4 linked regions of the Homo sapiens genome follow. The protein of the gene in region 1 purifies or fractionates together with the protein of each later gene. This does not show direct contact. Each region holds a gene or a part of one and is shown in the gene's direction. Other genes may lie near its edges.

Evidence for each region. The genes of interacting proteins can lie anywhere in the genome.
Region 2: the proteins of RPUSD3 (region 1) and SARDH purify together in Homo sapiens (affinity purification with mass spectrometry; one large-scale study listed by BioGRID and IntAct). This does not show direct contact.
Region 3: the proteins of RPUSD3 (region 1) and NDUFAF7 purify together in Homo sapiens (affinity purification with mass spectrometry; 2 studies listed by BioGRID and IntAct, with this or other methods). This does not show direct contact.
Region 4: the proteins of RPUSD3 (region 1) and LIN28B purify together in Homo sapiens (co-immunoprecipitation; one large-scale study listed by IntAct). This does not show direct contact.

The regions. Positions count from the first base shown.
Region 1 is NC_000003.12:9,837,349-9,841,008, reverse strand, and holds the end of RPUSD3 (mitochondrial mRNA pseudouridine synthase RPUSD3), read left to right. Parts: intron 1-203; coding exon 204-311; intron 312-392; coding exon 393-477; intron 478-673; coding exon of another isoform or gene 674-701; coding exon 702-825; intron 826-1,837; coding exon 1,838-1,977; intron 1,978-2,801; coding exon 2,802-2,993; 3' UTR 2,994-3,160; downstream 3,161-3,660. UniProt on the Homo sapiens protein: Catalyzes uridine to pseudouridine isomerization (pseudouridylation) of specific mitochondrial mRNAs (mt-mRNAs), a post-transcriptional modification necessary for their translation.
Region 2 is NC_000009.12:133,696,853-133,700,352, reverse strand, and holds part of SARDH (sarcosine dehydrogenase, mitochondrial precursor), read left to right. Parts: intron 1-3,500. UniProt on the Homo sapiens protein: Catalyzes the last step of the oxidative degradation of choline to glycine. Converts sarcosine into glycine.
Region 3 is NC_000002.12:37,238,158-37,241,657, forward strand, and holds part of NDUFAF7 (protein arginine methyltransferase NDUFAF7, mitochondrial), read left to right. Parts: intron 1-3,420; coding exon 3,421-3,500. UniProt on the Homo sapiens protein: Arginine methyltransferase involved in the assembly or stability of mitochondrial NADH:ubiquinone oxidoreductase complex (complex I).
Region 4 is NC_000006.12:105,079,107-105,081,469, forward strand, and holds part of LIN28B (protein lin-28 homolog B), read left to right. Parts: 3' UTR 1-2,363. UniProt on the Homo sapiens protein: Suppressor of microRNA (miRNA) biogenesis, including that of let-7 and possibly of miR107, miR-143 and miR-200c.

The DNA.
Region 1 (3,660 bases):
GCCGGGGCAAAATGAGAAACACATTAAGCTACATAGTCTTGTTATCAAAGAAGGGGAAACCTTACTTGTTTCTCAGGAGTTGGTCTAGGTTATAGTCCTGGTGTTAGTGTTTGGCCTGAAGCAGGTCAGTGTTCCTAAGAGTTTCCTTTTTAGTGGGCGAGTTCAAGGGACTTTAACTTGTGTGATTTGTCTGCTTATTCCAGAGAAAGCTCTGGGCTTGTACTCCTCTCCAGCTGTCCCCAGACAGCTAGTCGCCTCCAGAAGTACTTCACCCATGCACGGAGAGCCCAAAGGCCCACAGCCACCTACTGGTGAGAGGTGCTGGGAGGTTCCTAGAGTGGTGGGGAGGTCCCAGCAAGCCACCCTGTGACCTCCTCCTGCCCCTTTCTCAGTGCTGTCACTGATGGGATCCCAGCTGCTTCTGAGGGGAAGATCCAGGCTGCCCTGAAACTGGAACACATTGATGGGGTCAATCTCGTGAGTCCGGGTCTGGGAAGAGGAGGGGTGCTTCTAGATATAGTACCCCTACAGAGAGGAGTCAGGGGTATGGATTTGGGATGGCTGGCTCTCCTGTCCCCTAAAACAGGCAAGTGACCACTGCCTATACTGTGGCCCTGCCCGGAGTCTATTGGGAGCAGGGAGGGTCTGGGTATAGCTCCCAGACCTGTGTAAGGCTTGTTCACTCTTGGCTGGCACCACAGACAGTTCCAGTGAAGGCCCCATCCCGAAAGGACATCCTGGAAGGTGTCAAGAAGACTCTCAGTCACTTTCGTGTGGTAGCCACAGGCTCTGGCTGTGCCCTGGTCCAGCTGCAGCCACTGACAGGTAGGTCTGGCACCCTAGCCAGCCTTTAAAACTGCACTTGATTTGGGAGGCTGAGGCAGGTGGATCACGAGGTCAGGAGTTCAAGACCAGTCTGGCCAAGATGGTGAAACCCTGTTTCAACTAAAAACTACAAAAATTAGCTGGGCACGGTGGCAGGCGCCTGTAAAACCAGCTACTCGGGAGGCTGAGGCAGGAGAATCGCTTGAACCTGGGAGGCAGAAGTTGCAATGAGCCAAGATCATGCCACTGCACTCCAGTCTAGGTGATAGAGGAGACTTCATCTAAAAAAAAAAAAAACTGCACTTGAGCCAGGCGCGGTGGCTCACGCCTGTAATCCCAGCACTTTGGGAGGCCAAGGCGGATGGATCACTTGAGGTCAGGAGTTCGAAACCAGCCAGGCTAACATGGTGAAACCCTGTCTCTACTAAAAATACAAAAATTAGCTGGAGTTGGTGGCACGCACCTGTAATCCTAGCTACTTGGGAGGCTGAGGCGGGAGAATCGCTTGAACCTGGGAGACAGAGGTTGCAGTGAGCGAAGATCACACCATTGCACTCCAGCCTGGGAGACAGAGTGAAACGCTGGCTAAAAAAAAAAAAAACTGCACTTGGCTTAGGGAGGCAAGGAGCTGGGGAGACAGTGGTATCAGCAGCAGCCTGGGGAGCATTTGATGGCCCCCAGAGGTGTATGTGACCAGGCCCAGCTAGAGGAGGCAGCTTCAGGCTAGCACCCCAACAGGAAAGAACAGTCCTTAGGCCCGGTGGCTTCAGCAATTAAATCAGGGTTGCATCTCATCATGAGTGGATCCCACAGCCAGGCAGATTGATAGCTGTGATCGTCCTGACGTGTTATGTGTCCCTCTCTGGATGCAGGGGCCATAGTACTGACCTCACTGAAACATATGATCTGAGAAAGGGGGTGGTGTTTCCCCAAAGGAAAAGGGGAGGAGTGATACTGGGTGGCACAGAACGAGTAGCTGCCCACTGTCTCTCCTGGCTTTCCTGTTGCCCAGTGTTCTCCAGTCAACTACAGGTGCACATGGTACTACAGCTCTGCCCTGTGCTTGGGGACCACATGTACTCTGCCCGTGTGGGCACTGTCCTGGGCCAGCGATTTCTGCTGCCAGCTGAGAACAACAAGCCCCAAAGACAGGTACTCCAGCCCACCTGCCTGCTGCTTTCTGAGGGGTGGAGGGAGAGGTGAGCATGGGCAGCATCTCCAGACCTTATCTGTGCAGCTTGGGACTACTGGGAGGCAGCCCTTTTGGCTCCCAAGGCTGTATCCGTACCCACATCTTGGTGTGTGGCCTTGGGCAAGTAACACTCACTCTCTTGGGCTTCATTCTGTCCATGTGTTCAATAAGGGAGTTGATGTGGCTAATTTCTAAAGCCCTCTTAAGTCTGCCATTCTTTGAGTCTGGTACAAAGGGTCAAAGGCATGCGTGTATTAGGACACCAGATGCCTCTACCTGCTCTAACACACTAAGCCCAGACTACCAGAGTCTTCACACAAGAACTGTGCCCTCATGTTAAGGTCAAATAATGGGAGTGGGCTCTGCTTCAAGCACTAAGTACTCAGGGACCCAGGCTGTTGATACCCAGCCAGATGAGGGGAGACAGTGTAGGTTCAAGTGGATAAGGTTTTTCTGGGCCAGGTGTGGAAGTGGCATACATACTGCCACCCACATTCACTCAGCTAGAGCTCACTCACGTCTCACCAAGCTGTGAGAGGGCTGGGAAATGGAGTTGAGGTGTGTGCCTAGGAGGAAACTGATTGGGTGACCCCCTAGCCAGTCTCTGCTGCAGTGTGAGTGCCTGTGTGAATGTGCACATCTGTGTGCAAAGAGGAAATGATTAACAGTTGCAGAACAGTGGGGAATGGAGGAAGCGCCCGCCTTACTCCCATTTCCCTTAGAGCTGGGTACTCAGCTGCTTGGAAAATGTGGGGCTGAACACAACGTACCTCTCCCGCTCCAGGTCCTGGATGAAGCCCTCCTCAGACGCCTCCACCTGACCCCCTCCCAGGCTGCCCAGCTGCCCTTGCACCTCCACCTACATCGGCTCCTTCTCCCAGGCACCAGGGCCAGGGACACCCCTGTTGAGCTCCTGGCACCACTGCCCCCTTATTTCTCCAGGACCCTACAGTGCCTGGGGCTCCGCTTACAATAGTCCTCCCTCTGTTCCTGACCCCCTCACACACACTGGAAAGTGAGGGTGGGGGCTCTGCAGTCAGACAAACCTAAGATCACATCCTGGACAGGCCACTTGCTTGCTGTGTGGCATTGGGCAAGTAACTTTACCTCTCTGGACTTGTGATAATAAAAGTTCCTACCTCATGTTATGGTTTTGAGGATTTGCTAAGAAAGTAAATGTTTATTACGGATCTTGCTTACTGCTGAGTTGTGCCTGTAATCCCAGCACTTTGGGAGGCCAAGGTGGGCGGATCACGAGGACAGGAATTCGAGACTAGCCTGGCCAACATGGTGAAACCCCGTCTCTACAAAAAGTACAAAAATTAGTTGGGTGTGGTGGTACGCGCCTGTAGTTCCAGCTACTCAGGAGGCTGAGGCAGTGAACCTGGGAGGTGGAGGTTGCAGTGAGCCAAGATCACACCCACTGCCTAGGCAACCGAGCAAGACTCCGTCTCAAAAAAAAAAAAAAATTTGTAGAGATGGTGGCTGGGCTCAGTGGCTCATACCTGTAATCCCAGCACTTTGGGAGGCTGAGGTGGGTGGATCACTTGAGCCCAGGATTTCAAGACCAGCCTGGGCAACATGGCAAAACCCTGTCTCTACAAAATATGCAAAAAAAAATTAGCCAGGTGTGGTGGCATGTG
Region 2 (3,500 bases), on another chromosome or scaffold:
AATTTTTATTTATTTATTTATTTTTTGAGATGGGGTCTTGCTCTGTTGCCCCAGGCTGGAGTGCAGGGGTGCAATTCGGCTCACTGCAACTTCTGCCTCTCAGGTTCAAGCGATTCTTCTGCCTCAGCCTCCCAAGTAGCTGGGATTACAGGCACAGGCCAACATGACCAACTAATTTTTGTATTTTTAATAGAGACGGGATTTCACCATGTTGACCAGGCTGGTCTTGAACTCCTGACCTCAGGTGATCCACCTGCCTTGGCCTCCCAAAGTGCTGGGATTACAGGCATGAGCCACCATGCCAGGCCACTTCATTCCTTTTTATCCCAATCATATTCCATTGTATGGACCCATCATATTTTACTCATCCATTGATCCGTTGGTGGACATTGGAATTGTTTTCACTTTTGAGTTCTTATGAGCAGTGCTGCTGTGAACATCCACGTACCAGGTGTCGTATGCATGTATGTTATAATTTCTTATGGGTATATAACGAGGCCTGGGTCAAGTGGTATCTCTGTTTAACATTTTGGGGGAACGCCAACTGTTCTCCAAAGTAACTGTACCACATTACATTCCCCACCACAGTGCGAGAGGGTTCCAGTGTCTCCACATCCTCGCCAACACTTATTATTATCTGACTTTTTGATTCTAGACATCCTGGTGGTTGTGAAATGGCATTTCAGTGTGGTTTTGATTTGCATTCCTGGAACAACTAATGATGTTGAGCACATTTTCATGGGCCTGTTGTCCACTTGCATATATTCTGTGGAGAGATGTCTGTTCAGATCCTTTGTCCCTTTTAAAATTGGGTTATTTGTCTTATTATTATTATTATTATTATTTGAGACAGGGTTTCGCTCTTGTTGCCCAGGCTGGAGTGCAATGGTGTGATCTCGGCTCACTGCAACCTCCGCCTCCTGGGTTCAAGCAATGCTCCTGCCTCAGCCTCCTCAGTAGCTGGGATTACAGGTGCACACCACCACGCCCAGCTAATTTTGTATTTGTAGTAGAGATGGGGTTTCTCCATGTTGGCTAGGCTGGTCTCAAACTCCAGACCTCAGGTGATCTGCCTGCCTCAGCCTCCCAAGTAATTATCCTGCCTCAGCCTCCTGAGTAGCTGGGATTACAGGCATGCACCACCACGCCCAGCTAATTTTGTATTTTTAGTAGAGATGGGGTTTCTCCATGTTGGTCAGGCTGGTCTCGAACTCCTGACCTCAGGTGATCCACCCGCCTCAGCCTCCCAAAGTGCTGGGATTACAGGCATGAGCCACCGCAGCCGACTGTCTTTTTATTATTGAGTTGCAAATTTTTTTATAGTTTAGTTACAAGTCTCTTATCAGATCTGTAATGTGCACACACTCTCCCCATCCTGTGGTTGTCATCTCTCTTCCTTGATGGCATTGTTTGCAGCTTTTAAAATGTTGATGCTGTCCAATTCATCTCTATGTTTTTGTTTTGTTGCTTGTGTTTTTGGTGTCATGTCTAAGAACCTAACCGAAGGTAAAAAACATTTATGTTTTCTTCTAAGAGTTTTATATCTTCGCTTTTACACTTAGGTCTAGGATCCATGAAAATTAATTTTTTTTGCATGGCGTGAGGTCGGGTCCAGCCACGTTCTTTTGCATGTGGCTACCCAGTTGGCCCAGCACCAGTTGTTGAAAAGATTGCTCTACCCTTGGAATTGTCTTGGCACCCTTGTTGAAAATCAATTGACTGTAAAGATGAGGGCTTATTTCTGGACTCTCAATTCTATTCCGTTGATCTATAGGTCTATTCTTATTTAGTACCTCACTGTCTTGATTATGTGGCTTTGTATTTTAATAGCAAGTTTGGAATCAAGAAATGTGAATTCTGCAATTTTGTTTTTCCTTTTCAATATTGTTTTGAGTATTATTGGCCCCTTTGAATCTCCATATGAATTTTAGGATTGGCTAGTCAATTTCTGCAAAGAAACCAGCTGAGAATTTTGATAGGGACTGTGTTAGGTCTGTAGATCAATTTGGGGTATCTTGTCATTTCAACAATAGTAAGTCTTTTGTTTCATGAACATGGGCTGTCTTTCCACTTATTTAGGTCTTCTCTCATTTCTTTCAAAAAATCTAGATTTTAGGATATAAGTTTGGGACTTTTTAATTAAATTTATTCCTAAGCATTTTATTATCTTGATGATATTACAAATATAATTTTTTAAAACTTCCTTTTGAGACTGTTCATTGCTAATATAGAAATACAATAGTTTTTTGTGTGTTTTTATATATTGACCTTGTATCCTGCAACCTCGTTGAACTATTTTATTAGTTCTAACAGTTTTTTTTCTTTTTTTTCTTTTTTTTTTTTAGTGGATTCCTTAGGATTTCCTATATACAAGATACTGTTTTGGCAAATAGGGATGTTTTTATTTCTTCTTTTCTGATCTGGATGCCTTTTATTTTTCTTTTCCTGCCTAATTGCCCTGGCTAGAGCCTCCAGTGCAATGTTGAATAGAGTGGCAAGAATGGACCCCCCTGTCTTGTTCCTGATCTTTCATCATGAAGTATAATGTTTGCAATGTGATTTTTATAGGTGTCTTTCATCAGCTGAGGGAAGCTCCCTTATAGTCCTAGTTTGTTGTGCGTTTTTATCATGAACGGGTGAATTTTGTCAAATACTTTTCTGTATCTGTTGGAGGATCAGATGGTTTTTGTCCTTTGTTCTCTTAATATGTTGCATTACATCAATTGATTTTTGAATGTTAAACCAACCTCATATTCCTGGGATAAATCCCATTGATCATGGTGTGTAATCTCTTTCCTATGTTGTTGGATTTGATTTACTAGTATTTTGTTGAGGATTTTTTTGTATCTATATTTGTAAGAAATATTGGTCTGTAGTTTTCTTATAATATCTTTTTCTGCTTTTGGCATCAGGGTAATGCTGGCCTCCTAGAGTGAATTGGCAAGTATTTCCTATTCATATTTTTTGGAAGAGTTTGGGAAAAATGGGTATTAGTTCTTTGACTGTTTGGTAAAATTCATCAGGGAAGCCATCTGGACCTGGGATTGTGGACAATTTTTCAATTACGAATTCCATCTCTTTTTTGTTTTAGTTCTATTAAGATTTGTCATGTCTTCATTCTGTTTCAGTAATTTGTGTGTTTCTAGGAATTTGTCCATTTCGTGTCTAGTCTGTTGGCATACACGTGTTCGGAGTTCCCTCAGAATCCCTTTTATTTCTGTGGGGTAGGCATGATCTCCTGTCTTTCATTCCTGATTTTAGCACTTTGAGTCCTCTCATTTTCTCTGTCACTCTAGCTAGAAGTTTGTCCATTTTGTTGATCTTTTCAAAACATCAACTTTTTGTTTTGCTGTTTTTTCCTATTTTTCGATTCTTATTTCTGTTCTAACATTTCATTCCTTCTGCTTGCTTTGGGTTTAATTATGCTCTTTTTCTGGTGTCTCAAAGTGGAAGATTGGGCTATTGATTTGAGATCTTCTTTCGTAATGCAAGCACATACA
Region 3 (3,500 bases), on another chromosome or scaffold:
GGCCAGGCATGGTGGCTCAATCCTAGCACTTTGAGAGGCCAAGGTGGGCAGATCACAAGGTCAGGAGTTCGAGACCAGCCTGACCAACATAGTGAAACCCCGTCTCTAGTAAAAATACAAAAATTAGCTGGGCATGGTGGTGTGCATCTGTAATCCAGCTACTCAGGAGGCTGAGGCAGGGAATCGCTTGAACCCAGGAGGCAGAGGTTGCAGTGATTGCTGCAGTGATTGATTGCAGAGCTGAGATTGCGCCATTGCACTCCAGCCTGGTGACAGAGCGAGACTCCGTCTCAAAAAAAAAAAAAAGTTTAGGCTGGGCAAAGTGGCTCATGCCTGTAATCGTAGCACTTTGGGGGGCCAAGGTGGGAGGATTGCTTGAGGCCAAGAGTTCAAGACCAACCTGGCCAACAAAGCAAGACCTCGTCTCTTTTTATATTAAAAAAAAAAAAAGCAGAAGGCATAAAGCAAAAGATTAATATTTCATTTCTTACATTAAAATTAAAAACTTCTTGCTCTACAAATAAACTAGCAGCTTTTTGTTCTTCAGAGACCCCATTAAGAGAGTGATTAGACAAGCCACAGAGTGGGAGAAGTTATTTGTAACACGTAACCAACAGAGAACTAGTAGTTAGAATTATTTAAATAACTCCTTTAGGTCAGTAAGAAGACAGATAACTTGAGAAAAATCAGGCCAAAGATGTGAACAAGTCCATTCATAAAAGAGGAAAATACAAACGGCTAAAAAAGCAAAAAAAAAAAAAAAAAGATTAGTCACATTGGTAGTCAGGAAGATGAAAATTAAAATCACAATGAGATACTACTGTAACCCTTGCCAGATTAGAAAAAAAAGCTAAAAGTCTGTCAACACCAAGTATTGGTGAAGATGTGGATTTGTGGATCAATGGCAACTCTCATATACTGCTTGTAAAACTATAATTTAGTACATCCTTTTTTCTTTCTCTTTTTTTTTTTTTTTTTTGAGACACAGTCTCACTTTGTCACTCAGGCTGGAGTGCAGTGGTACGATCTTGGCTCACTGCAACCTCTGCCTCCCAGGTTCAGGCGATTCTTGTCCCTCAGCCTCTTGAGTAGCAGGGATAATAGGCGTGGATCACTACACCCGGCTAATTTTTTTATTTTTAGTAGAGAAGGGGTTTTACCATGCTGGCCAGGCTGATCTTGAACTCTTGGCTTGAAGTGGTCCGCCTGCCTCGGCCTCCCAGAGTGCTGGGATTACAGGCATGAGCCCCCGTACCCAGCCTTGTACAACCTTTTTGAAAAGCTATTGGCCATTATCTATTAACATCAAAGTTTCTTATATTGTATGACCCAGCAATTTTACTGCTAGTGATATACCCTAGAGAAACTAGTGTATATGTGTACCAGGAGACACATACAAGAAGATAGCAGCATTGTATAAAATAGCGGAAAATAACAGCACAAATGCCCATCGGGGGGTAAATGAATCAGTTAATTGTGGTATAGTCATACAGTGGAATACGAAGTACTGCAAGAATGCGTGAAATCACAGTGGAATATAACAGTGTTCAACATGAAACAAGATGTGTGAAAGTAGCAGTTTGCAAGAGTTCGTATCATATGATTGTATTTATATAAAATCCAAAAAATAGTCAACATTAAACAATATGTATTTGGTGATAAAAATATATTTAGTAACATTTATAAAGAAAAGTCAGGGTGTTATTAACTCAAGATTCAGAATGGTGGTGACTTCCAAGGGTAGAGGGAGTCCACAGGGGCTTTGGAGATAAGGTCATGTCCCATTTATGGTAGATATTCTCTCTTGTATCATTGTTTCTATCAGTCTACGTACTATTTTATGAAAACATTAAAAAGGAGGACAGTTGTTTATAGTACCTGATAAGTAATAGTATTTATTAAACTTTTGTAGTTTTTAGTATTTTGGAACTCATTAGTGTTTTTGAGTTTATTTTATATGTACTTGACAATTCAATGTAAAAAACAAACATGGCTGGGCGCAGTGGCCCATGCCTGTAATCGCAGCACTTTGGGAGTTCGAGGCTCCCAAAGTTCAAGATCAGCTTGGGCAATACGGTGAAACTCCATCTCTACAAAAAATACAAAAATTACCCAGTCGTGGTAGCATGCGTCTGTGGTCGAAGCTAGTTGAGGGGCTGAGATGGGAGGATTGCTTGAGCCCAGGAGGTTGAGGCTGCAGTGAGCTGTGATTATGCCTCTGAGTAACAAAGTGAGACCCTGTCTCAAAAAAAAAACCAAAAAACACCAACACATACTCAATATAAATTTAAATTTCTTGATGCTTTATGGTTTTTGCTTTAAATTAGAAATTAAAGGATTTAAAAAATATATAAAATATATAAACATATGACAAATAAGAATCTTGATTATTTGGGTGAAGAAAGAAAACAAAATCACGAATTTAAATTTCCAGGGCTCTATTTTATGTTTTTCAGCAAGGTCATTTGAATATAAAATATTTAATAAGGACCTCAAATCATATTCTCTTGTTCAAGTACTTTAAAAGTTGATTCCAGAGCCCTTAAAATGTATGAAGGATGCTTTTCCAGACTGAGTCATAAGAAGTCCTAAAAGCCAAAGAATTTAAAGGGTTGTAAAGCAAATAGCCAGAGAAGTGTCAGACCTGTTTTATTTTTGATGTTACCTTCTGAAGGAATTTCTCCTGGGAAGTTTTTCCATTTGTATTTCGATCTCAAAACTAAATTTGGAAAAATCATCTTGTTCATATTATCAGTCTGGATGTGCATATTCATATCTCAAAAGTATTAATTGGAGGCAGATCACCAGTAGAAATTAAATTCAAATGAAAAATAATGTTGATACACTTTATGCTTTTGCTATTGATTTTTTAGCCTTAAAAGATTGGTAAAATATTAGTATTTTCCTTTTTCCCTTGCATGTTTACAACAGTGAAAAAATGTGTAGCTAAATATAGATTGAAAATGTGGCAGACCCCCGAGTTAAGCAGTCAGGTTTTCAGTACCATTCAGATTTGGTTCTTTGAGGTTAGAGTTCTCATCATCTCAAAGATGAGATTACTTCCTAGACCTAGAGATGTTATCAAATCAAGGCTGTGTACATTTTATTTCCTTGGTCTTTTTTTAGACTCCATAATCTGAATCATTGTTTTTATCAGATGCCAAATCTTTTATTTTCATTTGTTAATCATAATTTATCATTAGGAAACCAAATTGTGCATTGTTCATTTCTTATTTAGATTATGCTTAATAACTAGTAGGTTAGGATTCTTATAGACTGCTGGAGAGTGGCTTGGGTAAGGAACACATCTCTCTGAAATATTACCTCTATTGTGACATGACTAAATCATTGATGTAAATGATTAGGAAACTTAAAACCTACTTAACACATTGTATTTTTTTTTCTTCTTTTGGTATTTAGGTGTTCACTCAACTTGGATCTGTGCTGAAAAATTGTGACATTTCAGTACATCTGGTAGAGGTAAGCCAAAAATTAAGTGA
Region 4 (2,363 bases), on another chromosome or scaffold:
TTGTGTATAGATCAAAGCACACACCCTCTCTCATATAATTGGATATTTCCAAGAATTGAAAACCCATGTGAAGCATTATAGATAGTTTTAAATTTAACCCACTGGAGTTTTCTTGAAATACCACTTCTTTTATATTATATAAAACTAAAAACACGACTGTTACCTTTTGTGTGAACCAAAGGATACTTCAGATCTCAGAGCTGCCAATTATGGGGTACTAAAGGTTTTTAAGACATCCAGTTCTCCCGAATTTGGGATTGCCTCTTTTTCTTGAAATCTCTGGAGTAGTAATTTTTTTCCCCCTTTTTTGAAGGCAGTACCTTAACTTCATATGCCTCTGACTGCCATAAGCTTTTTTGATTCTGGGATAACATAACTCCAGAAAAGACAATGAATGTGTAATTTGGGCCGATATTTCACTGTTTTAAATTCTGTGTTTAATTGTAAAATTAGATGCCTATTAAGAGAAATGAAGGGGAGGATCATCTTAGTGGCTTGTTTTCAGTAGTATTTTAATATCAGCTTCTTGTAACCTTTTCCATGTTGTGAGGGTTGTAAGGGATTGTGTGGCAACAGCAGCTTCCCTTGGCTAACTCAATCTTCTACCCATTGCTTAGAGCAGGGAGCCCTCCTTATTTACTACTGAAGACCTTAGAGAACTCCAATTGTTTGGCATATATTTTTGGTGGTGGTTTTTATTCCTCCTGGAGAGTTATCTAATTTGTTTCTAAAACAAACAAGCAGCAAAGAAATGAATTAAATACTGGGGTTGAGAATTAAAATTAAGTGGATGTTCACAGTTGCCCAATATATATGACCTGCAAATGATACGAAAAAGTGCAGCATTTAGTGGCAGTTAACAAGAGTGACAAGCCTGGGGCAGAGGTACCAAACCTCTCCCACCAGAGAGCTAGAAGTATTTTATACAGTAACTTTGATCTTATGGAAGTGACCTTCAATGCTTATTCTGAAGTAACCTATATGGTGGATACAGGATGAACATTCAGTGCCAGGGAGAATCTTCTCAGGTTGGTTCTCGTTAGAGTGATAAACTGGCTAGGGGCCATAGTATTGGTCCTGTTAGGTTTCGGTCATGGAAAAAAAAATTATTTTGGGGTCATCCTGGCTCTAGATGTTATGGGCAAATTTCTGAAACATCTGCAAGAAGGTACCAGTTAATTATAGTGCTTAATATTGGGAATAAGATTAAGCATTATAATTATAATGTATGGGCCTGTTGGTGTAAGCTCAGATAATTAAATAAAAATAGCATGACTCAAATGAGACATATTCTGCTGAACAGTTTCTACTTCCTCTCCCGCCTGTCCTGTCATGGGAGACGTGTATAGTTGCTGCTGTTTCAGCAAACCACCATAAGACGAAAATGCCTCAGGTTGGGTTGCCAGTCCTTTACAACTCAGCTTGAATTTCACAACAGTGATTGTGAGAATCTGCGTGGTATACACTGAAATATCGGTGTGCTGTGATGCAAAGCTTACCTTTGACGATATTGAATGTGATATAGCTGTAGAGAAGTACTTCCTTGCCTTATGTGAGGATTTCAAACTTATTTAAATTATGTAGACAAATCAAAGTGGCATTGCTTAATTTTTAGCAGGCATAATAAGCAAGTTAACAGTAAAATGCAAAACATGATAAGCGTTGCTCAATTTTTAGCAGGTATAATAAGCAGGTTAACAGTAAAAATGCAAAACATGATAGATAAGTCACTTTGAAAATTCAAACCAAAGTTCCTTCACCTTATGGAAATAGGAAATTATGGACTTCAAAATTGGACACTTCCTGTTTACAAAAAGAAATTCAGAGCTAAAATCATGGTAAAAAAAAATAGAAACACTTGAGAACTATGGTCTTTATGGGTGCAATTTGAAATCCTTTTCATCATCTTACCAGACTAAACTAAGAGCACATACCAAACCTATCTTATGGTTGAAAGTTGGGGTTTATTTTTTATATGAGAATATTATCACTATTACATAACATACTCAGGACAAAGAACTTTGCTCAGGGAACATACCATGTAATATTTTTGTTGTTTCTTTACAGACTAGTCTACAGTCCTGCTTACTCAAAACAAACCAAATAACTTATACCTTTATATAAGTATTATGTACTGATGATAGTAACTACCTCTGAGTTTGACACAGATCAAAATTTTTGAATATCAGATATCAGTTATCCTATTTTTATTTCATGTGAAAACTCCTCTAAAGCAGATTCCCTCAACTCTGTGCATATGTGAATATCACTGATGTGAACACATTGTTCATTTACATAGGTAAAATATTACTCTGTTTACAGCAAAAGGCTACCTCATAGTTGATACATAGCACACCTGTATG